3 linked regions of the Homo sapiens genome follow. The protein of the gene in region 3 interacts with the protein of the main gene of each other region in a pairwise test. Each region holds a gene or a part of one and is shown on either strand. Other genes may lie near its edges. The genes, in order: STK36, ABCA2 and CDK5RAP2.

What was found.
Region 1: the proteins of CDK5RAP2 (region 3) and STK36 interact in a two-hybrid assay, tested with the Homo sapiens proteins (one study listed by BioGRID and IntAct).
Region 2: the proteins of CDK5RAP2 (region 3) and ABCA2 interact in a two-hybrid assay, tested with the Homo sapiens proteins (one study listed by BioGRID and IntAct).

The regions. Positions count from the first base shown.
Region 1 is NC_000002.12:218,688,459-218,696,859, forward strand, and holds part of STK36 (serine/threonine-protein kinase 36), read left to right. Parts: intron 1-238; coding exon 239-418; intron 419-1,400; coding exon 1,401-1,498; intron 1,499-1,991; coding exon 1,992-2,097; intron 2,098-3,684; coding exon 3,685-3,835; intron 3,836-4,124; coding exon 4,125-4,252; intron 4,253-4,781; coding exon 4,782-4,886; intron 4,887-5,264; coding exon 5,265-5,363; intron 5,364-5,436; coding exon 5,437-5,525; intron 5,526-5,805; coding exon 5,806-5,869; intron 5,870-6,066; coding exon 6,067-6,177; intron 6,178-8,068; coding exon 8,069-8,143; coding exon of another isoform or gene 8,144-8,176; exon of another isoform or gene 8,177-8,401.
Region 2 is NC_000009.12:137,005,420-137,011,324, forward strand, and holds the end of ABCA2 (ATP-binding cassette sub-family A member 2), read right to left. Parts: intron 5,891-5,905; coding exon 5,767-5,890; intron 5,687-5,766; coding exon 5,554-5,686; intron 5,319-5,553; coding exon 5,201-5,318; intron 4,953-5,200; coding exon 4,774-4,952; intron 4,706-4,773; coding exon 4,564-4,705; intron 4,485-4,563; coding exon 4,350-4,484; intron 4,226-4,349; coding exon 4,122-4,225; intron 4,044-4,121; coding exon 3,951-4,043; intron 3,635-3,950; coding exon 3,532-3,634; intron 3,450-3,531; coding exon 3,312-3,449; intron 3,204-3,311; coding exon 2,997-3,203; intron 2,546-2,996; coding exon 2,510-2,545; 3' UTR 1,815-2,509; downstream 1-1,814. UniProt on the Homo sapiens protein: Probable lipid transporter that modulates cholesterol sequestration in the late endosome/lysosome by regulating the intracellular sphingolipid metabolism, in turn participates in cholesterol homeostasis.
Region 3 is NC_000009.12:120,569,785-120,578,185, forward strand, and holds part of CDK5RAP2 (CDK5 regulatory subunit-associated protein 2), read right to left. Parts: intron 2,258-8,401; coding exon 2,190-2,257; intron 1-2,189. UniProt on the Homo sapiens protein: Potential regulator of CDK5 activity via its interaction with CDK5R1. Negative regulator of centriole disengagement (licensing) which maintains centriole engagement and cohesion. Involved in regulation of mitotic spindle orientation.

The sequences.
Region 1 (8,401 bases), on a different chromosome or scaffold from region 3:
GCCCCTATCCGTTGGTCACTGGTGTTCTGTGTTAGGTAACCTGACCATCTATTGTCTTCTTCCCTGGTACAGTTCCCCTATTTCCCTGCTTTCCTTCTCTGTGTTTTAGACTTGCAAAGAAAGGAATGCAAGCATGTGGTCTGCTTTCCCAGCTCCTTGGGGATGCTTGGTATGTGTAGTTCTCCTTCTTTTACCTCTGAAAATATCAATCGTTGCCTCTTTCCCTCATGTCACCCAGATCCTGAAAGGCATCTTGGAGGGTGCTTCCCACATCCTGCCTGCATTCCGGGTCCTGAGCAGTCTTCTCTCCAGCTGCAGTGATTCTGTTGCCTTGTATTCCTTCTGCCGGGAGGCAGGGCTTCCTGGGCTGCTGCTGAGTCTACTCAGGCACAGTCAGGAGAGCAACAGCCTCCAGCAGGTAAGCACCAGGCCAGAAGCCTCTGAAGACTTACAGAGGTTCTTTTTCTTGGATTTATCTCATTCAGATTGCCATCTCTCTTTGGTCTGACTGCCTTTTATTTTCTTTCCTCCTCTTTCTAGTTAGTAGACTATTAATTGCAAACTCTAATGCCTTCTGGGGCCAGGCAGATAAGGTCTGCCATGAAGTAGGCTATGCATGTGACTATATGAGTTGTGGGGAATATGATGAACTAGAGTTCACATGCCTCCTCTAAATAGAGTAGAGGCATCCTTTCCTCAGCCTCCAGCCCATTGTTGCCACAGGGAAATATGGGCCTGAGAAAACTAGCCAGATCTTCTAGTTTTCTAAGAAAAGGTAGAAACCCAAATTTTTATGTGTAATTTTTAAATATTTAGAGCGCTGTGCTTTGAAATGTTAGATCCTAGGCTTCATTGACCTGATCTTACAGAGCAGAGTACTAAAATTCAGAGGTAACTCATACACAGTCACTAATTTGTAAATGGTCACAGAGATAACAAGTGGAAGAGCTGGGATAGAGACTCAATGTGTTTGGGGCCAAACCTCTACTTCCCCCTGCTGTGTCCTACGGTAGCTGGACTGAGAGGATGGGGAATGTTTCAGAGTCAGTGTAAATGCCTAATAGGGCCTAGGATGAGGCAGCTGGAAAGCTGCACTTTGTTGATGAGTATTAATCTTGGGTGATTTTAAGGAATTTAGAGAAAAAGATTTTTGAAAAATAGAACCTCCTATACTCCAAAATGCTATTCAGGCCAAACAAGACACATTTAATCCAGGCTGTTCACAGCCCATTGGCAGATTCTCTGTTACCCCTAGAACTCTCTCTCTGCCTATACTTCTCTTCTGTCCCTTTCTGTTTGATCAACTTGACTGGGTCTCTATACACCCTTTCTACTGTTTTTTCTATTCTTTGTTTCCATCCTTCACATTGCCCTTACTCTCTTCTCCTTTTCCTGGGCAGCAATCTTGGTATGGGACCTTCTTACAGGACCTGATGGCTGTGATTCAGGCCTACTTTGCCTGTACCTTCAATCTGGAGAGGAGCCAGACAAGTGACAGGTAGGATAAGAAGTGCTTTTGCATTGTTGGCAAGTTTGGCTTCTGTTTCTACCCCAAGTGCCCTTCCCATTTAGGAACAGGCCAAGTATGAAGAAGCTGTGATTTGTTACAGGTTTAGGAATCAGCTGAGTGGCCACTCATAGTCCTTTTAAGGACCCTAAGACAGCTCCAACTTGGCCTCAAGACTTACAGTTTCTAAGAGTCAGCAGTCACCATGGTCCTAAAATGGAAGGGTCAAGATGTGAATAACCTATTCCAGGAAGCCAATTGGATTAAAGAAAGAAAGAAAGAAAAAAAATATGCGAATAACCTAGAGAAAATGGCAAAGAAGGGGCTTGGAGGGTGTATGTGTGTGTGTGGCAAGGGAGAAGGGAGGAACATTCTGATGTGTCCCTTTGCAGAGATTCTCCTACCTGCCCAGGACTGACCCATTCACCACATCCAGGCTTTTAGTAGAGAGATAAGAAATCATGGGCTCATTTTCCACCCCCAGCCTGCAGGTGTTTCAGGAGGCTGCCAACCTTTTTCTGGACCTGTTGGGGAAACTGCTGGCCCAACCAGATGACTCTGAGCAGACTTTGCGGAGGGACAGCCTTATGGTAATCTGCTCCCACTTCCAGATTTCTGTGTCTCCTATCATTCTCCGTGTTTCTCCCATCCCCTTTCTTATGACTATGTAGGGTCAGATCAAGTTAATATGACAAACATTTGTTAAATTCCCACCATGCCATATGCCATGTGAGTAAGAAAAAGTGCCTGCCTTCAAGGGACTAGGGATAATTTAATAGGGGAGAGGTAAAGGGATTAAGGACAACAGTGAAAAGTACATTAGAACTTTGCATATAATACAAGAGCACTGCTGTATTTTATGAAGAAGATGCAGTTAACCACTGCAGAAGATGCACTTAACACTATTTGGAGTATCATAGAAGAAATCTCGAAGAAGGAAATCATCTCTGCTAGCATTTGAAGAATACATCGCAGTTTGCCACGTAAATGAGGCACAAAGTAGAAATTCTATACAGAAAGAGTAACATATATAAAGGCCCAGAGGCTTTAAGCAGTTTGGCATATTTCAGGGGACCACAAATAGAACGACTTCTTCTTGAAAAGACTTGCAGATCATCTAGTATTGTCTAACCTCGTTTGTCCTGAGGATTAGTAGACTATGCAGTTCTTTTCCCTAGATCCTGGAGGTAAGGGACAGGAGAATGGAGGATTGAATGAGAAAATAGCTGTGTTCTGACTAACCTCAGAGGAGATAGAGAGGAACATATATTTGTAAGGAAGTAAATAATTGCCTGGTCATTGTTAAAACTGGTAATTGGGAACATAGATCTGGACTACTACTTGCCTTTAGCTAGCATTCACTCAGACTTTCCTGGTCTGAGATCCTGTTTTAATATCCCTCACCCTTTCAAGTCAGAAAGCTTTTACTGTCTAACCTAAATTTTGGCCAGCAGTGACTCATGCTATTGGCCAGCACTTCTCATGTCATATGCTATGAATAGAATGGGGAGTTTGGAATAATTACCTCCTGAAATTCTGAATCAGTAGGACTGAGTTGGGAGGGACCCAGGAATCCCTAGGATTTCTTCTTTTCTTTCCTTTTTTTTTTGGAGACAGGGTCTCTCTGTCACCCAGGCTAGAGTGCAGTGGCATGATCTTGACTCACTGCAACCTCCACCCTCCGGGCTCAAGCAATCCTCCCATCTCGGCCTCTTGAGTAGCTGAGACTATGGGTGCACACCACCAGACCTGGCTATTTTTTTTGGATTTTTAGTAGAGACAGGGTTTTGCCATGTTGCCCAGGTTGGTCTCAAACTTCTGAGCTCAAGTGATCCACCTGCCTCGGCCTCCCAATCCCCTGTTGGGATTACAGGCATGAGCCATTGCACCTGACCCCTAGGAATTCTTATACTCACAGTCTATAAAAAATACTTTGAGAAACATCATCTAGGGAGCATCTGATCAGAGAATAGAAGGATTGACACCTAAAATTATTGTCCTTGAAGCATGAATGAAAGCAGTTCTAATGCATTTTTGGTGTGAAGAATGCTTAAAATTAGACATGTGTTTGCTTTGGTTTTTGTCCTCTTTCCTCAGATCCTCAGGGTTTTCTTGTTTTTTACACTAAGCCCAGTCTTCTGATGCCCTGATGCTACCTCTGCACTTCTCTCCTTTAGTGCTTTACTGTCCTGTGCGAAGCCATGGATGGGAACAGCCGGGCCATCTCCAAAGCCTTTTACTCCAGCTTGCTGACGACACAGCAGGTTGTCTTGGATGGGCTCCTTCATGGCTTGACAGTTCCACAGCTCCCTGTCCACACTCCCCAAGGTAACCAGAGTGGAGAAGGGAGGTTCTCTTGACTTACTTGTTGCATAGGTCAGGCTCCGCTCTTTCTATTGCCATCACCTAGATCGCACCTGGCATTTAGTAGGTGCTCAATAAATAACTGTGAACTGAGAGAATGAATGGGGATCTGAGGGAAACAAACAGACCTCATCCTGCATTCTTCCCACTCCCTTAGGTTCCCTACTCCTGCTGCCATGTCGGTGAGTACTGGTGCTATTGTCTAGGGCAAGAGCCTCAGGCCTTTGGAGTTACTCTTTGCTTTTCTCCACAGGAGCCCCGCAAGTGAGCCAGCCACTGCGAGAGCAGAGTGAGGATATACCTGGAGCCATTTCCTCTGCCCTGGCAGCCATATGCACTGCTCCTGTGGGACTGCCCGACTGCTGGGATGCCAAGGAGCAGGTCCGAGCTACAATTGGTTGTTCCTCTCATCCTACTGCCAGAGGAATTGAGGAGGCTAGCCCCAGTTTTTCAGAAAGGCAGAAAAACAAGCTTTTAAGCCCCTCCTTTAGTACTTCCAGAAACAGATGCTCCCACCCTGGGCCATTTGTAGAACATGATATAGCCAGAATCCCAGAGCCCATGGCCAGTTGGTGAGGGAGAGAGCACAGTGATAAACTGCCCAGATGGTGGGGCAGCTGATCTGAAGCCTCCAGTGATGCTTCCTCAAGGGCTGAGAATTCAGCTTTCCTGATCCCTGTTGGTCGGTAATCCTTTCCTCTGTACCTGGCTACACTGGGGCCAAACTAGGCCATGACTTTTGGTTCTCTATTGGTGATGAAGACTGGGAATAGAATGGGGTCTGAGGTTTCTGGTGAATGTGGGAAGAGTGACTAGGAAGAGACTGAGAGTCCTGATCATTTTGGACATATGTGAGGAATAGGGTTGTAATCATGTGGATAGGATTGAGCCTTCAGGTATGTCTCTATAGGTCTGTTGGCATTTGGCAAATCAGCTAACTGAAGACAGCAGCCAGCTCAGGCCATCCCTCATCTCTGGCCTGCAGCATCCCATCCTGTGCCTGCACCTTCTCAAGGTAATCCTCTTAACTCCTGGCATCACAGCTTTATTTTTAACTCCCAGTGCAGACAGAGAAGCAGAGAAACAGACCAAGAGAGGAGGACTAAAAGAGAGAGAGACTGAGAGAGACCATTTGAGACACCCCCTTGGAAGACTCCTTTCTGCTTTTAAATCTGTTCAACTGAGAGGACCCCACTGTTAGCCAGTCCTCAGCGGAACCGAGAAGGGTCCCTGTCTCACTATCTCATAGCAAGAGGCAGAAGGGGGTTCTCTCACACTCCCAAGTGTGGGTACCAGATCTTTTGAGGGGCTGGCCGGTGTTTCCGCTGAGCCTTCAATCTTGGAGCCCGGGGCCTGCCCTGCCTCACTGCCAGACTCCTTCCTTCTCCCTCAGGTTCTATACTCCTGCTGCCTTGTCAGTGAGGGCCTGTGCCGTCTTCTGGGGCAGGAGCCCCTGGCCTTGGAATCCCTGTTTATGTTGATTCAGGGCAAGGTAAGCCAGCTTCCCCTGGCAGCCCCACTGTCTCAGCCAGAGGTTGTTCTGATATCTTAGGTTTCCTTTGTAGGTAAAAGTAGTAGATTGGGAAGAGTCTACTGAAGTGACACTCTACTTCCTCTCCCTTCTTGTCTTTCGGCTCCAAAACCTGCCTTGTGGGTAAGTCATAAAGTAGGGTGTCTCCACAGAAGTCTTCTAGCCACATAGCTAACCCTCACAAAGAGTATGGGGAATGGTACCCTACAGCATATCCTTAGGAGGAATTGGGATAGAGAGCGTGAAGCTTTCTCTACAAAGAACAGACCTAGACTCCCATCAACTTTGTGCCTTGGAGGTAGACATGCAGCCTAGGTGAAGAACACCATGCAAGGGAGAGGGGAGGCCGCTTACCAACCTCCTTTAATACTGCTGCATCCCTTGATGTATCTCTTTATTCCAGAATGGAGAAGCTAGGCAGTGACGTTGCTACTCTCTTTACCCATTCGCATGTCGTCTCTCTTGTGGTAAGTTTTTAACCTTCACCCTCCTCCCCTTTTCACCCTAGCATCTACCCCTTGTGGAAGTGGGGGAGTCACTATCCAATTTGCATCTGTTTCTGGAGGCATTCTTTTGGACCAGGACAGAGACATAAATCCTCTCTGCCTGTCCTGAATGCCATTTAGATTTGGACATTCTTTCTCCTCTTTTACCTCTCCCACAGAGTGCAGCAGCCTGTCTATTGGGACAGCTTGGTCAGCAAGGGGTGACCTTTGACCTCCAGCCCATGGAATGGATGGCTGCAGCCACACATGCCTTGTCTGCCCCTGCAGAGGTGAGGCCCCCCAGGGAGGGCACAGACATGTTTTCTCTGAGTCAGACACTAGGACTGCATTCAAGGGGAAAAGACTGAAATGCCAGCAAGCCTGGAGTAAACTGAGGAATGGAAAAGGAATCAAGGAGCCCTTCCTTTTCTAGATTTGTCGCCGGATGATAGGCCCCTCTGAGCCCAGATTGATCTGGACTTTAGATTTCTTTTTAATATGCAGAGCTTCTAGAGAGTGAGGGAGGGAAGGGAAGAGGAAGGGTGACTAACCTGAGTTTTCTGAGTAGTGTGAGAACCCTGCCTGCTTCGTTCTCCTCCTCCAGAAGCTCATGCTCTTGGCAGAGTCCTTCCTAATGCATAATTTCACCTCTGACTGCAGCTTCCACTCTGCTTTCCCCACTTGTTCTTCTTAACAGATGGAAAAGGTGGCTGACATCCTGTGAATTCTTCAGGAACTCAGTCCATTATGTAGCCTTCTTTCTGCTTTCTCCTTTCCCAGGACTTTTCTTCCTTTCATTTTTAGACCCTTTGGAACTCATCTTTCCTTCATTTTGTAAAAAGAAGGATAGACTTTATAATCAAATTATTGTCATCCCTTTTTTTTTTTTTTTTTTTTTTTGAGATGGAGTTTCACTCTTGTCCAGGCTGGAGTGCCATGGCGCGATCTCGGCTCACCGCAACCTCTGCCTCCTGGGTTCAAGCGATTCTCCTGCCTCAGCCTCCCGAGTAGCTGGGATTACAGGCATGCACCACCATGCCCAGCTAATTTTTGTATTTTTAGTAGAGACAGGGTTTCTCCATGTTGGTCAGGCTGGTCTCGAACTCCTGACCTCACATGTGATCCGCCCACCTCGGCCTCTCAAAGTGCTGGGATTATAGGTGTGAGCCACCATGTCCAGTCTTTTTTTTTTTTTTTTTTTTTTTTGAGACGGAGTCTTATTCTGTCGCCCAGGCTGGAGTGTAGTGGCACGATCTTGGCTCACTACAACCTCCGCCTCCCAGGTTCAAGTGATTCTCCTGCCTCAGCCTCCCAAGTAGTTGGGATTACAGGTATACACCACCATGCCTGGCTAATTTTTTTGTGTGTTTTTAGTAGAGATGGGGTTTCACCATGTTGGCCAGGCTGGTCTCGAACTCCTGACCTCAAGTGATCCATCCGCCTCAGCCTCCTAAAGTGCTGGGATTACAGGAATGAGCCACTGTGCCCAGCCTGCCATCTTTATATATGTAGAATTCTTTTTTTTTTTTTTTTTTTTGAGATGCAGTCTCACTCTGTCACCAGGCTGGAGTGCAGTGGCGTGATCTCGGCTCACTGCAACCTCCACCTCCTGGGTTCAAGCGATTCTCCTGCCTTATCCTCCTGAGTAGCTGGGACAACAGGTGCACACCTCCATGCCCAGCTAATTTTTGTATTTTTAGTAGAGACGGGGTTTCACAATGTTGGCCAGGCTGGTCTGGAACTCCTGACTTCCTGATCCCCCCGCCTCAGCCTCCCAAAGTGCTGGGATTACAGGCGTGAGCTACCTCAGTGGCTGAATTCTTTATAATTTATAAAACATTTTCACATGTTATCCCACAACACACTTGAAATATAGACACACCAATGTAATAATACTCATCTGCTTTTTCTAGACTAAGTTAGCCTTCAGAGAGGTTGTATCACTAGTGATAGCACTAACACTCATCCAGAAGTCTAAGTCAGAACTTTGGGAGTCATCAGTGACTGTTCTCTCTTCCCCATTATTCCCCCACCGAAATGGTTCCCCCAGGCCCCATATATTCTACCTTCCGGTTGACTCTCAAATCTGTTCCCTCCATGGCACCATCACTGACCTGCCTTGGTTTAACGGACACCCCATTCCTCTTAGGCACCTGCATTCTTCATGTTTCTCTCTGACAGGTTCGGTTGACTCCACCAGGTAGTTGTGGATTCTATGATGGCCTCCTTATCCTTCTGTTGCAGCTCCTCACTGAGGTACAGATGGATCTTGGGATGGATGGGAAGTAAAGAGAGAGGAACTGGGCATTTTGGGGAGCCTCTGGACCAGAGGAATGAAGAAGCAACCCACAGCCTTCCCTCTCAAGCTACTGTGCCTGTGATAGCCTTGGAACTTCCCCGCCTGCCCTCAGTACTGACCCTTTGAAGGAAACCATTCGCTGCGTCCCCTGGGATCCAGTGGGAGATAAAATGAATTCCCTGGGTTTCAGCAGACATACACATGAGTTGTGAGGT
Region 2 (5,905 bases), about 16 Mb from region 3:
ACCCGGGAGGCGGAGCTTGCAGTGAGCCGAGATTGTGCCCCACTCCAGCCTGGGCAAGAGAGTGAGACTCCGTCTCCTCAAACAAATAATAATAAAAAATAAAAAAGGGCATGCCTGGGCCACCGGGGCCCTGAAAAGCCTTGCTGTACCCTTTGTTAACTCTGGGCTACCCTGGCGGCTCTTGGGGGAAGGAGGCTGCAGGGCCGGGGCTGGCAGGTCACAGCTGCTTGCTTTCACATGGGGCAGCACAAAAGTGGGTAGAGCGACGGTGCGTGTGGCAAGATTTCACAGGCGCATCGGCTGAAGATGCGGCGTGCGCTCTGCTATTCTCGCAACTTTCCTGAAAGTTTAAAATGTTCTTTTTGCTGTTGTTTTGAGACAGAGTCTCACTCTGTCATCCAGGCTGGAGTGCAATGGCACGATCTTGGCTCACTGCAGCCTCTACCTGCCAGGTTCAAGTGATTCTTCTGCCTCAGCCTCCCGAGCAGCTGGGAATACAGGCGCCCACCACCACACCCAGCTAATTTTTGTAGTTTTAGTAGAGATGGGGTTTCACCATGTTGGCCAGGCTGGTCTCGAACTCCTGACCTCAGATGATCCACCTGCCTCGGCCTCCCGAAGTGCTGGGATTACAGGCGTGAGCCACCGTGCTCGGCGGAAAATGTTCTGAGGAAGATGCTGGGGGGTGTGTTTGCTTTCAATGCTGCATTACACATCATGAAAATGAAACCTCTAGGGACGATGCCCCCGTGAACTGTGTCAGTCTGTGGGCGGCTGTCCAGGTCCAGCCTGGCCTGGTCCTGCGCGCAGGGTCTCCCTGGGCCTCGGCTGGGCCGTGTTCCTTTCTCGACCTCTTTCTGCCATGATTCAGCCCCTACAGTTGCAGGACGGAGGCTGCTGCGGCCTCCTGCCTTCTGGCGGCTCCCCCACGCATTTCCCTTGGCCGACCACCAAACCCACACCAGCCCCTCCAGTGAGCCACTGTTCCTCTCGGTTCTTCCAGAGTGAACCGCCCCCAGGGCCCAGGACAGCTTCACCCCAGTGACCCAGCCTCTCAGGGACTCCAGCATGGTCATCCCACTGCCTCTCAGGTGGTCACAGTGAGTGCCTCATAGGAACCCAAGTGGATGTGTTGGCCCAGCCCACCCAGTGCCCTCAAGCCCATGGGCCCCTCCCCTGTTGTCCCCCATGTGGCACCAGCCCTCAGTGAGTCCACCCTCTACCCTCCTGAGGAGCCTTGAAACGGCCTAAGGCAAGAGTCTGAACTTGGCCCAGATCACGGGGCGTGAGCTCTGGGGGCCATTCATGCCCCTCCCCCATCTCCTGCCCACAGTGTGCCAGGCTCCACCGCTGATGAGCCTCAAAGCTTCCAGGTCCTGCCTCCCTGGGGCCTTGGCCTGTGCCCTGCCCTCTGGCTGGGATGCCCTTCCCTTAAGGAATCTTCACAGACTTCGGTCTCCTCCTGGAGGTCGCCTCTTCCTGGAAGCCCTCGCTGTCCCTTCCATGACACGGAGACAGCCTAGCCCAGGCTGCTGCAGGCCCCACGTGGGCAGCAAGGGGTGAAGGAGGCTTAGAGAGGGCAGGTGGACGGGAAGATGAAGGCTAAGGGGAAGGGGGCCGGGAGCAACCCCTGAGGGTGGGATGAGGGGGACAGTGAACCATGGTGAACCACCCTGCCTCAGTTTCCCTCCTCCAGACCGACCCAGCCACCCCCTGCCAGCACCTGTGCCTGAGGGGCAGGGCCTTCTGGAGCGCTAACCCACCTGATGCGCCCATCCTCCCCACCCTTCCCAACCCACACACGCAGACCCGCAGACATTTTGTTTATTTATTTAAAACAAACATCTGTGCGCTATGTACAGGCCCGGCTCCCAGGGAGGTGGGCGGGCAGGGGGCCAAGCTGGGTGGGAGAGCGATGGCAGCTGGGGGTTGGGGGGGGTCTGGCCCCTTGCCTGGCCAGCAGGGTCAGCTTCTCCATTCCTGCCACCTGCCAGCTGGCCCAAGCTGATGGCTTCCCGCAGGACAGCCACCTCCCTGCAGGAGAGCAGGGCCAGAGGAGCCTCTTCTCAAAGCAAAATAAATACGGGACTGACCCAGCTCCGCCCACAGCCCGCTCTCGGCATCAGCCTTCATCGTAAGAGAGAAAAGCTGGTTCCGAGGCCGGGCAGGAGAAAGGCCAGCAGTGCCTGGTCCAGCCGGCGTCGCCTTGGGCGGTGAGCAGTGCCAGGCAGGGGCGAGGGGCCGGGCAGACCCCGAGGCTTTAAGGCAAAGCAGGGCAAGGGTGTACGCAGCCCGGGCCGGGTCAGCCTTTGGCACAATTAGGGGCGGCAACCGCAGTGACCACAGGGCATGGCCGAGTACAGGGGCTGGAGGACCAGAAGCCCCTTGGTCCTGAACCTCCACTCCAGGCCCTGGCAGGCACTGGGGGACTTCTGTCCCCATTGTTGAGTCCCTGGCCCAGCTCTGGGTGGTCAGTGGAGCGTGTCCTCCCTGGCCCAGCTCTGGGTGGTCAGCAGAGCGTGTCCGTGTTGAAGGACAGCTGGGCCTGTGCACAGGGGAGGTCAGGCTTATGGGGCATCCTGTGCCACCCCCTGCTGGGGCTGAGGACACTTGTGCTGGCCCGCCCCGGCCCTCCTGCAGGCTGGGCCTGGACGCAGGGTCTCCCCACGAGCTCCCTCTGTGTCTGGGCTCTCCCGGGCCTCCGTCTGCCGAGTCTGGGGGCCACTGAGTCTACATCGGTCCCCTGTTCCCCGGCTCTGGTCCCCTCTGCCCCACCCTTGCTCTGTGCCCCTCAAAGACTCTAGCAAGTCTGGACCATGCAGTTACGTCTCTCCAGGCCTATCTGCAAGTGTCCCTCGCCCACTCTGCCCCCTTGACCTCTGGACAGCAAGCATCCTGGGGCCAGTTCTCCCCCGACCCCACCCGCGGCTGGAGCCACCAGGCAGCCTGGGTCCAGTGGGCAGAGCCCTGGACAGCCATGAGAGCAGCCTGCTCACCCGCTCCTCCTCGAAGCTGATGAGGCCCTCGTCCTCCGTGTCCAGGTCCTCGGGCTCGTCTGCCACAAGTGCCCGGAGCTCCGTGGGGGCAGACCGGGGCCGGAGCAGGCTGAGCAAGCAGCCGAGAGGGGACTGCAGTGCGGATGGCGGCTCCGTCTCCTGCTGCTCCAGGTTGTCACTCTGCTTCTTGGCAAAGTTCACGAACACCTGGTGGGTGGCGCAGGCGTGTGGGGAGGGGGCTGGTCTGGGGTGAGGAGGGGCAGGGCGGGTGAGGGGAGGGGCAGGTGTGGTGCGCAGTGCCCTTGGGGCGCTCACATTGTCCAGTGTGGTCTGGCTGACCGAGTAGTCCTCGATGCCCAGCACGCCAGACACCTGCTCCATCTTGCTGAACACCTGGGCCAGCGAGATGTGCTCCGACTTGAGCTGGTACTGCACCTTTGTGTGGTGCCGCTCCTGCAGGGGGGGAGGTCAGAGGCCTGGCAGCGCCCCCCCACCCCGTAGCGCCCCCTCCACAACCCTGCCCGGGACGGCGCACCTTGAGCATGGCTTCCGGGAAGTTGCGGTTGAAGAACCGCACCACGTCCTTCACACTCTGGCTGCTCTTGGTCCGCACCGTGATCATGTAGCCATCTCCAAACCTGGTGGGACAGGCCGGTGGCCCGGAGCCCTGCGCCGCCCAGCCAGAGCCCCAGCCCCCCAGCCTCCCAGCCCTACAGCCCCCACAGGCACCCCAGGAAGCCCCATAGCCTCCCACAGCCCCCCAACCCCACAGCCCCCACAGCCCTCCAGGCTCCTCCCCTGGCCCCACTGCCCCAGTCCCCCCAGCCCCAGTGCCCCCAGCCCCCCTGGCCCCACAGCCCTCACAGCCCTGCAGCCACCCCCACTCCTGGCCCCGCTGCCTGGCCGCCCCCCCCGGGCCCGCCCCAGCCCACCCCTGGCCCTGCCCCGGCTCACCGGTTCTTCAGGTGCTGGATGCTGCCCAGGCACCGCAGGCGACCGTTCACCATGATGGCCAGCCGCGTGCACAGCGCCTCGCACTCCTCCATGCTGTGGGACATGCACAGGCTGGCACCGGAAGGGGTGCTGTGGGGTGGGGGCACAAAGAGGGGGTGGGGGCGCCCTCACCTGTGTGATGTCAGCACCACTGAACGCCCTGTCTTGATGAGGTCAAGGATGAGGTTCCAGAGGAAGCGCCGGGCCTTGGGGTCCATGCCTGTGGTGGGCTCGTCCTGGGGATGGGTGGCAGGCTCAGCTGCTGCCAGGCCCACACACCCCAGCCTGAACGCTGCCCCTGCCCGTGCTCACCAGGAAGTCAAAGGCCAGGCAGCCACCCCCCACCCACCCAGGACTTACCAGGAAGATGAAGGCTGGGTACCCAATGAGGGCGATGGCCGTGGAGAGCTTCCGCTTGTTGCCGCCGCTGTAGGTGCCAGCCGGCTTGTCTGCGTACTTGGTCAGCTCCAGCTTCTCCAGAGCCCACTTCACCACCTGGCCAGGGAACGCAGGTGTCAGTGGAGGCAGGGCCACCCAGCGTGCTGACTCCCTGCCCCGCCCCACAGATCCTCACCCGGGCCTCGTCCTTCCAGGAGATCCCACGCAGCCGCGTGTACAGCTGCAGGTGCTCCCGGGCCGTGAGCTCGTCGAACAGCGCGTCACACTGCGGGCAGTAGCCGAGGCTCTGCTGCACCTGGAGCAGCTCCTTCAGCACGCTGGGGACACGGCAGCTGTCAGCGCGTGAGGACGCGGCGGCCCCGCCCACCCAGGGCTCCCGCCCCACCTGTGTCCATTGACGAAGGCCTCGCCCCCCGTCGTGCTCTCGTCGCCGGTCAGCATCTTGAAGGTGCTGGTCTTGCCCGCACCGTTGACGCCCAGGAGCCCGAAGCACTCGCCAGGACGCACACCCAGGCACAGGCGGTCAACGGCCAGGATACGGCCAATCTTCCGGGACTTGTAGACCTGGCCAGGAGCCTGCCCACTCAGCGGGGCATCCTGCCCCCACCCTGCCCCTCTGGCCCCACCCCACCCAGACCCTGCCCCACCTCCAGAGCCCAGGGGGCCACGTGCCCCACAGCCCCACCCCATGCAGGCCCCACCCCCAGAGCTCAGGGCCCTGCCCACCCAGGCTCCACCTCCACTGCTGGGGCCCCACCCCCCTGGCCCTGGCCTACCCCACCCAGGCCCCACCCTACATGCCCAGAGCCCACCTTGGTCAGGTTCTCAATCTTGACCATGTCATTGTCGGCGTCTCCCCGGAGCACTCGCTGCCGCTCACTGGCCACGTCCACATCATCCTCCACAGGCTTGGTAGACACAGGCATGCGCCTTGGGGGACAGGGTGGACAGTGTCCAGCAGCTCGCCACCCCCACTGCCCCTCCCTGCCACCAGCCTCGCATCCTCTGGCTGTGGCATGTAAGAAGGGTGGGCAGGCCCCTCTGCTGTCCCCTGCCTCACCCCCTCCTGCCCCATCCCTGCCCCCACCCCCGCCCCTACCCTGCCCCACCCCCGAACCCATCCCTGCTCCCGCCCCGCCCCCGCCCCACCCCGCCCCCCACTCACTGTGGCCGCCGCAGGAAGTTGTACTGGCACATGATGGTCAGGAGGAAGCCCACGACGCCCTCAACCGCCATGGCCACCAGTCCGCGGGTGACAATGTCCCACTCGAACGGGGACTTCATCTTGTCAAACTGGCCTGCGGGGAGACAGCTCAGGGCCTGTGCTCTGGGCCTTGCGGGGCCCCCACCGCCTTCCCCGCCCCACGGGCCCCCTCACCAATCTTGGCGTAGTACTCGTTGATGTACTCGTTGTAGGCCATCTCCATGAGCCCGTGGCCCAGGTTGTAGTTGGGGAAAATGAGGAAGCAGCTTTTCAGGTAACTGTTGACAACCTTCAGGTCCTGCGGGGTGGCCGG
Region 3 (8,401 bases):
GAACAGACTGTAAGGGGCTTAGGAGAGAAACAGGGAAACCAGTTAGGAGAATATTGGGATAATCTAGGCCGCAGATCATGGTGGGTTGGAGTAGGATGGAAGGAGTATAGGTGGGTGAGAACTAGTCTGATTCCGATACTTTAAAAGTAGCCAACAGGAATAAATGAAATGAGATGAGATGAAGTGAAATACACAATGTTGAGAGAGGAAAGTACACCTTAGTCAGCCTGGGGAGAGCCAAAAAGGGTGGTGAGCTTTGAGCTGAGTCTTAAAGAGGGAGCAAGGAGGCACCGGGCAGATGAGAAACAAAAGGAAGGAGAGACAGCCCAGGCAAAAGCACAGAGGTGGGAGTGGGCATGGTGTTCGGAAACCACTTAGCAGAAAAGAGGCTAAGGAGTGGGCAGGGCAGACTGTGAAGGGCACGCTAGTTTGTTTTCCTGTTCCTCAAACGGGCCATGCCCTCACCTGTGTCTGGGATGCTCATCCCCTCCTTTTTCCTTACCTACATCTGACTTATTCAGGTCTCCGCTCCAATATCAATTTCTTGGGAAACTCTAGCCTGACCCACCTCCACACCAGAGGAAATCTCCCTTTAATCCCCTCTCACAGCACTTGATACATCTTTGCTCCTGACACTGACCATACAAATTCTCATAAGGGTTTGTCTGTCTTCTCAGCTTAACAGTAACCACATTTGAGGTTGAATTTTAGCACTGAGCCCAGAGTCTGGCATGAAGCAAATGTATACTATCGGCTAAATTAAGAAATAGGCTGGCCAGGCACAGTGGCTCATGCCTGTAAACCCAGCACTTTGGGAGGCTGCGGCGGGTGGATCACCTGAGGTCAGAAGTTCGAGACCAGCCTGGCCAACATGGTGAACTCTGTCTCTACTAAAAATACAAAAATTAGCTGGGTGTGGTGGCACGTGCCTGTAATCCCAGCTACTCGGGAGGCTGAGGCAGAAGAATTGCTTGAACCCACGAGGCGGAGGTTGCAGTGAGCCGAGATCACACCACTGCACTCCAGCCTGGGCAACAGAGCGAGACTCCATCTCAAATCAGACTTGTTGGATTTTGCATTTAAAGTAAAAGTTGCCAATGAGTGCAGTGGCTCATGCCTGTAATCCCAGCACTTCGGGAAGCTGAGGCAGGTGGATCACTTGAGTCCAGGAATTCGAGACCAGACTGGGCAACATGGCAAAACCGTCCTGCAAAAAATACAAAAATTAGCCAGGTGTCGTGGCACACGCCTGTAGTCCCAGATACTAGGGAGACTGAGATGGAGAATTGCTTGAGTCCAAGAGGTCAAGGCTGCAGTGTGCGTGATCGCACCTCTGCACTCCCAGCCTGGGTGACAGGACAAGACCATGTCTCAAAAAAATAAAAAGTAAAAATAAAGTAAAAGTTAATAGGTTCCTCAGGAAAACATGAAGGTGCCCTGTAAGTTAAGGGATTTTCCAGAAATAAACCGTGGGACTCTTTTCCTGTCTGCTCCAAAATCTCCCTCCTCTTGCACATATCTCAGCACTGTGGAGAAGAGAAAAAAAAGAACAAGTCAAAATATCTTAGAGATATTTTGCAAAAACTAGCACTACCCACAGAGACGCTTAAGCATTCACTTTTTTCAGAAATAAAAATTATGAAGAATGCTTAGCTAGACCCAAACTGCAAAGTCTCCTCATAATCCAGCTTAAACACAGTACGCTACTTATTTACTCAGAGCCGTCTCCTGTGGTCTAACCAGCTATTTGTCTCCAAAGGGCAGGCCCGTGTAGGAATGCGGGGCCTCAGCCGGCAAACAGGATCCAGCAGCCTGCCAGGAAGGCCTTGGCACGCTACAGTCCAGATGGCAGCTCTCCTGGGCCTCCAGCCACTGGCCTAGCTGCCAATTCAATGTCCAGCCTCCGTGCAGTTGTTCAGTTCAGCAAACGCTCACTGAATCCCTATAGCTTTAGTAGCAACAAATGAAACTCATGAAGTATGGCCAAAAGGACAACAATTCCTCTAGTCCAGTGTTTATGAAAGGAGGTGGAAAGCAAATCAATACATACAAAAAATACTGAGCACCTACGGTGTGCCAGTTCAGGGAAGCCTCTGGGCCCCAGAGATATGAAAGCTCAAGATGCTCACAGTCCAATGTCTACTTTCCTTGTTCTTTACTCAAGAGAATGCCTGGTTTTGTGTACTTACGACCATTTCCCAACCCAGCATTGGGGTTGATGCCATCCAGGTCATCTGGTACACTGGGAACAAGGCCACTAGGAGAGAACACATGAGATAAGAGATGAGCTAATGTTTGAACAACAGAGACTGTTAAGACGGTCTGGACTGCACATGACAATCATCCCATGGCCAGGAGGGATGCACACAGCTGGGCTACCTATGTGGCATGAAGCACAGAGGTTAAGAACTCAGGCTTTGGGGCTGAGTTCCAGCTCCAACACTTGATAGCTGAGTGACCTTCAGTAACATCATTCATTCAGTCATACATCAAATGTTCTGTGTGCCAAATATGTGCTAGTGGCAGAGGCACTGTGACAAGTACAAGATACTTATGTTTCTGAGTCTCACCCTCTTAATCTGGTACATGAGGATACCATGCCCTCCCTGTAAAAATTAAATTCGTTCATGTATATAAACACAAAGCACATAGTAAGTATTCAGTAAACGGCAACTATTGTTGTTGTTACTATTATCATTATGACTACTAATATGCCTATCACCACCTCTGGGAATCAGACACCAATTTAGATGTTTTAAGAATGTCAAACAATGCAAAATTCACTGATCCAAGAAGTTGTCTTGGTTGAATTACATAAATAAATTCAGTGAGGATCTGGAGACACTGACAGAAAACTAACCCATAATAGGAGGTGTGGTGTGACACAAAAGACACTACCCTGATCTATTCTAAGCTCTGCCATGTATCTCTCTGAGCCTCACTTTCTTTAGCTGTAAAATGAGTACAGCAGCTACCTCACAGAGTAACTGGCAATTAAACAAGATATTGCAAGGTACCTTGTGGGTACTCCACAAATGGGAGCAAAATATCATGTCGCCTTGAAACCTACAGTGCTTTACAATTTATAAAAGATTTACCATCATTAGAATTGCCTAATTCCCTGAGGGTGCACACATTTTTCAAAGGAAGGCCCCAAGGCCCAGACAATTTTACTGTCCTAGCCAGGGTCACATGGCGGTTCTGTGGAGAGCCAGGTCCAGAAGCCAGGTCTTTTATGTCCAACTCCCACGAATACTTCCCTATCCCACACTGTAAAGTAGGAGTTGATGGAAACAGCTTGACTTCTTGGCAATTTGCTCTTTCCATGCCTCTAAATCCAAATTCATTGTGCTCCTAGGATAATTTTGCCTGACCACCAAACTTTGGAGTTGGAATGTACCTTCAAGATCAAAAACAGGCAAAAAATTGGAAATATCATAAAATTCCAACATTAAGAAAATGATCACAAAAAAATGTGTCCGGGCTGGGTGCAGTGACTCATGCCTATAATCCCAGTATTTTGGGAGGCCAAGGCTGGTGCATCACTTGAGATCAGGAGTTCGAGACCAGCCTGGCCAACATGGTAAAACCCCATCTCTAATAAAAATACAAAAATTAGCCGGGCATTGTGGCAGGTGCCTGTAGTCCTAGCTACTTGAGAGGCTGAGGCAGGAGAATCACTTGAACCCAGGAGGCAGAGGTTGAAGTGAGCTGAGATCATGCCACTGCACTCAAGCCTGGGTGATAGAGTGAGACTCCATCTCAAAAAAAAAAAAAATTTAAAAAAAAAAGTGTCCCCTGTAAAGGTAAATGAAAAAACGTAAACAGAATATGTCCTCAATTATGAAAACAAATATATACAGTACATAAATACTGAAGTCACCTCAAGTCCATTTTGGAAATAGGTGGGCTACAGATATATAACAAGACAAAGGAAATATACTGAAATATTAAAAATCATCATTAGTAGGGAAATGAGAGGTTTTCTTCCTTTTTAATGTTATATAATTCTCAATTTCCTCCAATAAACATCACTAAAAGGACAAAGTCAATTTTCTAAACTGAATTTTAAAAACTAAAATCAAGTTCAACCATCACCTTTTGCAGATGGTGGTCCAGAAGCCCAAGGTCACATACACCAGGTTATTGGCCAAGCTCAGCCTAAGGTCTGGTCCTGCATTCTCAATCTGGGGTTCTCTCCGGGTACCAGAGCCATTACATTAACTCCCACTGGCTAAAACTGCCCATGAATAACTCAAGCCAAGATCAATCACAGCTGAAAAGTACCTAGCAAACAAAGCCAAAGATTCTGGTCTTAGACAAGCTTCCTACAGGCAAACACTGAAGTTTGAAAAATGACATCTGACATCCCAACTCTTAGACAAAACCACTATGTAATGCAGAAATTTTTGCTTGGATCCTGCCAAATTTCCACTCGGGCTTTACCTACCCACTTTTAAAATGCTATGAATCTGTCATCTGCACCCTCCAGTCAGTTCCAACTACACCTCCAGCCACAAGCAGCTCCCTCTTTCCATTCTAATCATTCACTTGTAGCCTTATAATTAAGGCTGGGGCCTCAGGGATACTCACGAGAAATGACAATGTAAGCAAAACAAAAGGGCTCAGATATGATCTTATTCCACAGATGAGAAGACTGAAACCCAGAAATGGGTTAGGAACTTATTTACTCAAAATCACAAAAGTTAGTGGCAAAGCCAAGCCCAAAATCCAGGATCCCAGTGTCTTTTCCACTTGCTAGCCTGTGTGTGGACTGCCCAAAGCTCCTATATAAATGTGACACATGGTGGAGTACCAGTTTCCTCACGTGCAAAATAAAGCACAATCTAAGAAACCTGCCCTTGTATGGGGCACCCATGCTGCACAAGCACCACACTCAGCACAGGACAGGCAGCCTTCCCTTTCATCCTCACCACAGGATTAAAGTCCATTTTCTAAACTGAATGTTTGAAACTAAAATCAGGTTTAATCCTCACTATAGTCTTTCTGCGGCTGGTGGTACTTTTTAATGTTGCCTTTTTTTTTTTTTTTTTTAATGAGGAAACAAAGACCAAAAAGTTAATAGGCTGGAAACTCCAAGCCAGCCTGACTTTAAACCCCCTGCTGTGAACCTACACCACCCTGGTACCCCTGACGCCTTCCCGGAGGTTGGGGGTGGCAGGGGTGTGGTGGTGGTTAAGGGCCGAATGGACTGAGGCATAAAATTTCCATCACTCAGCACAGGGCACAGCCATCATAACGACTGTTTTGTTTTGTTTTGGTTTTTTGGAGACTCTCACTCTATCGCCCAGGCTGGAGTGCAGTGGCGTGATCTCAGCTCATTGCAACCTCCACCTTCCATATTCAAGCGATTCTCGTGCCTCAGCCTCCCAAGTAGCTAGGATTACAGGCATGCACCACCACGCCCGGCTAATTTTTTGTACTTTTAGTAGAGATGGAGATTCACCACGTTGGCCAGGCTGGTCTTGAACTCCTGAGCTCAGGTGACCTGACCGCCTCAGCCTCCCAAAGTGCTAGGATTACAGGCGTGAGCCACCGCGCCCAGCTGTAGCAACTGTTTGTGGATAATTTTTGAGTGACTGAATGGACCTTCACCTGAGCTCCACCACCTCATCCTCCTATCTTGCTCTATTGCTACCGAAAAGGACTGACCTCTTTCTATGCCTACATATGCCAGCAACAATTGTCCACTCAAACCATAAGACCCAAGGGGTCTTATGTCTCCTTGACAAATTGTTTCATGAGAGTCATGGATGAGACCAGATATCACATTCTGACAACGATTACACAAACAAACTCACTTTTGTCTTTTAACAACCCCTTTTTCATTCTATTTTATTCTTAATTAGAGAAAAATACATAAATTTAAAAAAATACAGATAAGCCTAAAGTTCTCCTTGGCTCCTCCTCGCTCCCATCTAGAACCCGCCTAGGAGGTAATCACTGTTTTCAAAAAGACCTATAACTTCCAGAACTTTTTATGTGTTTTTACATAGATAGTTTCAATTTTGCTGCTTAAAAACACATGCAATCAAACAGTATACATCATGCTACAACATCCTTCTTCTACTTAATATGCCCTCATGATGTTTTCATGACAGTACAAATAGATATGCCTCAAAGTTTTCAACTCCTACAAAGCTTTCTACAGCAGTGTTCTTCAAACCTTACTGACCATGAGCCACAGAAGAAATATTATTACCCTTCATCCTTGAAATGTTTTCTATTCTGTTCTATTTTTCTAAATCCTGGTTGCAACCTACTAAATTGAATTTCATGAGCTACCAACGGGCCACAGTCTGAAAGATACTTTTGAAAGGATGTGTATTTACCCAATCCCCTACTGATGATAATTCAATTTGTTTCCAAGTTTTTCTTTTACATGCAATGTCATATGAATGTCCTTATAAGGTCCCATATGCACAAGTATGAGGATTTCTCTAGAATAGATGACAAGAAGTGGAATTGCTGGGTCAAAATATATTCACGTTTTTTAAATGGACGATGGATTTGAATACACATTTCTCCAAAGAAAGTGAACAAATGGCTAAAAGGCACATGGAAAGATGCTCAACACATCAGTAGCCATTAACATGTAATCAATACCACAATGAGGGCCAGGCGGGGTGGCTCACTCCTGTAACCCAGCACTTTGGGAGGCCAAGGCGGGCAGATCACCTGAGGTCAAGAGTTCGACACCAGCCTGGCCAACATGGTGAAACCCCGTCTCTACTAAAAATATAAAAATTAGCCGAGCATGGTGGCACGTGCCTGTAGTCCCAGCTACTTGGGAGGCTGAGGCACCAGAACCGCTTGAACCCACGAGGCAGAGGTTGCGGTGAGCCGAAATTGCGCCACTGCACTCCAGCCTGGGCAAGGGAGTGAGACTCTGTCTCAACGACAAAAAAAAAAAGACCACAATGAGATACCTACCATGTCACACCCAAAGGATGGCTATAATCAAAAGGACAATAAAAATATCAGTGAAGGGCAGGCACAGTGGCTTGTGTCTGTAATCCCAGCTCTTAGCAAGGCAGAAGCAGGAGGATCACTTGAGCCCAGGAATTTAAGACCAGCATGGGTAACAGAGCAAGACTGTCTCTAAAAAAAATTAAAAACAAAAGCCTTAAAAAGGAAAGAAATTCTGACACATACTACAACACGCATGAACCTTGAGGACATAATGCTAAGTTAAATAAACCAGTCACAGAAGGACAAATAGTGTATGATTCTACTTATACGCGACACTTAGAGTAGTCAAAATCATAGAGACAGGCTGGGCGCAATGGCACATACCTATAATCCCAGCACTCTGGGAGGCCGAGGCAGGCACAACACTTGAGGCCAGGAGTTCAAGACCAGCCTGGTCAACCTGGTGAAACCCCGTCTCTACCAAAAATACAAAAATTAGCCAGGCGTAGTGGGGCATGCCTGTAGTCCCGGCCACTAAGTGGCTGAACCATGAGAATTGCTTGAACTCTGGAGGCGGAGGTTGCAGTGAGCCAAGATCACTCCACTGCACTCCAGCCTGGGCAACAAAGCGAGACCCTGTCTCAAAAAAAAAAAAAAAAAATCATAGAGACAGAAAGTAGAATGGTGATTGTCAGAGGCTGGGAGAAGGGGGGAATAGGGAGTTACTGTTTTAACAGGGACACAGTTTCTGTTTTGCAAGATGGAGAGTTACGAAGATAGATAGTGGTGACCGTTGAGCAATAATACAAATATATTTAATACAACTGAACCATGCTTTAAAATGGTTAAGATGGAATGTATGCAGTATCTACGTCCTGCAAAGGCAGGGAGATGAGGGAAAGGAGAATATTTGCTGATCTGTTGAGTAGTTACTCTGGGTCAGACACTGAGCTAAACTTTTTAAGATTCATTTTAATCCTTATGCCAACCCTAGGCTTTATACCAACCCCTTTTACAGATGATAAACACTGAGGCTCACAGATGATGAGTGACTTGCCCCAGATCAAGGGGTTGTTAAGTAGCAGAACTGGGATTAAAACCCAGCTAGGCCTGGGACCCCAAAACCCAAGTGTCTGGCCAAAAAGCACTGAAATAAGAATGGCTATCTGAGAGAATAATAATGGAAGTTATGATAACAGCAATAAGCAGCATTAAAAGTATAAAGCAGCAGACTGTGAAGAGCAGATTTATATTTAAAAAATAGTTCTCACGCCGGGCGCGGTGGCTCACGCCTGTAATCCCAGAACTTTGGGAGGCCAAGGAGAGCAGATCATGAGATCAGGAGATGGAGACCATCCTGGCCAACATGGTGAAATCCCGTCTCTACTAAAATACAAAAATTAGCCACGCACGGTGGTGCACTCCTGTAATCCCAGCTACTCCGGAGGCTCAGGCAGGAGAATTGCTT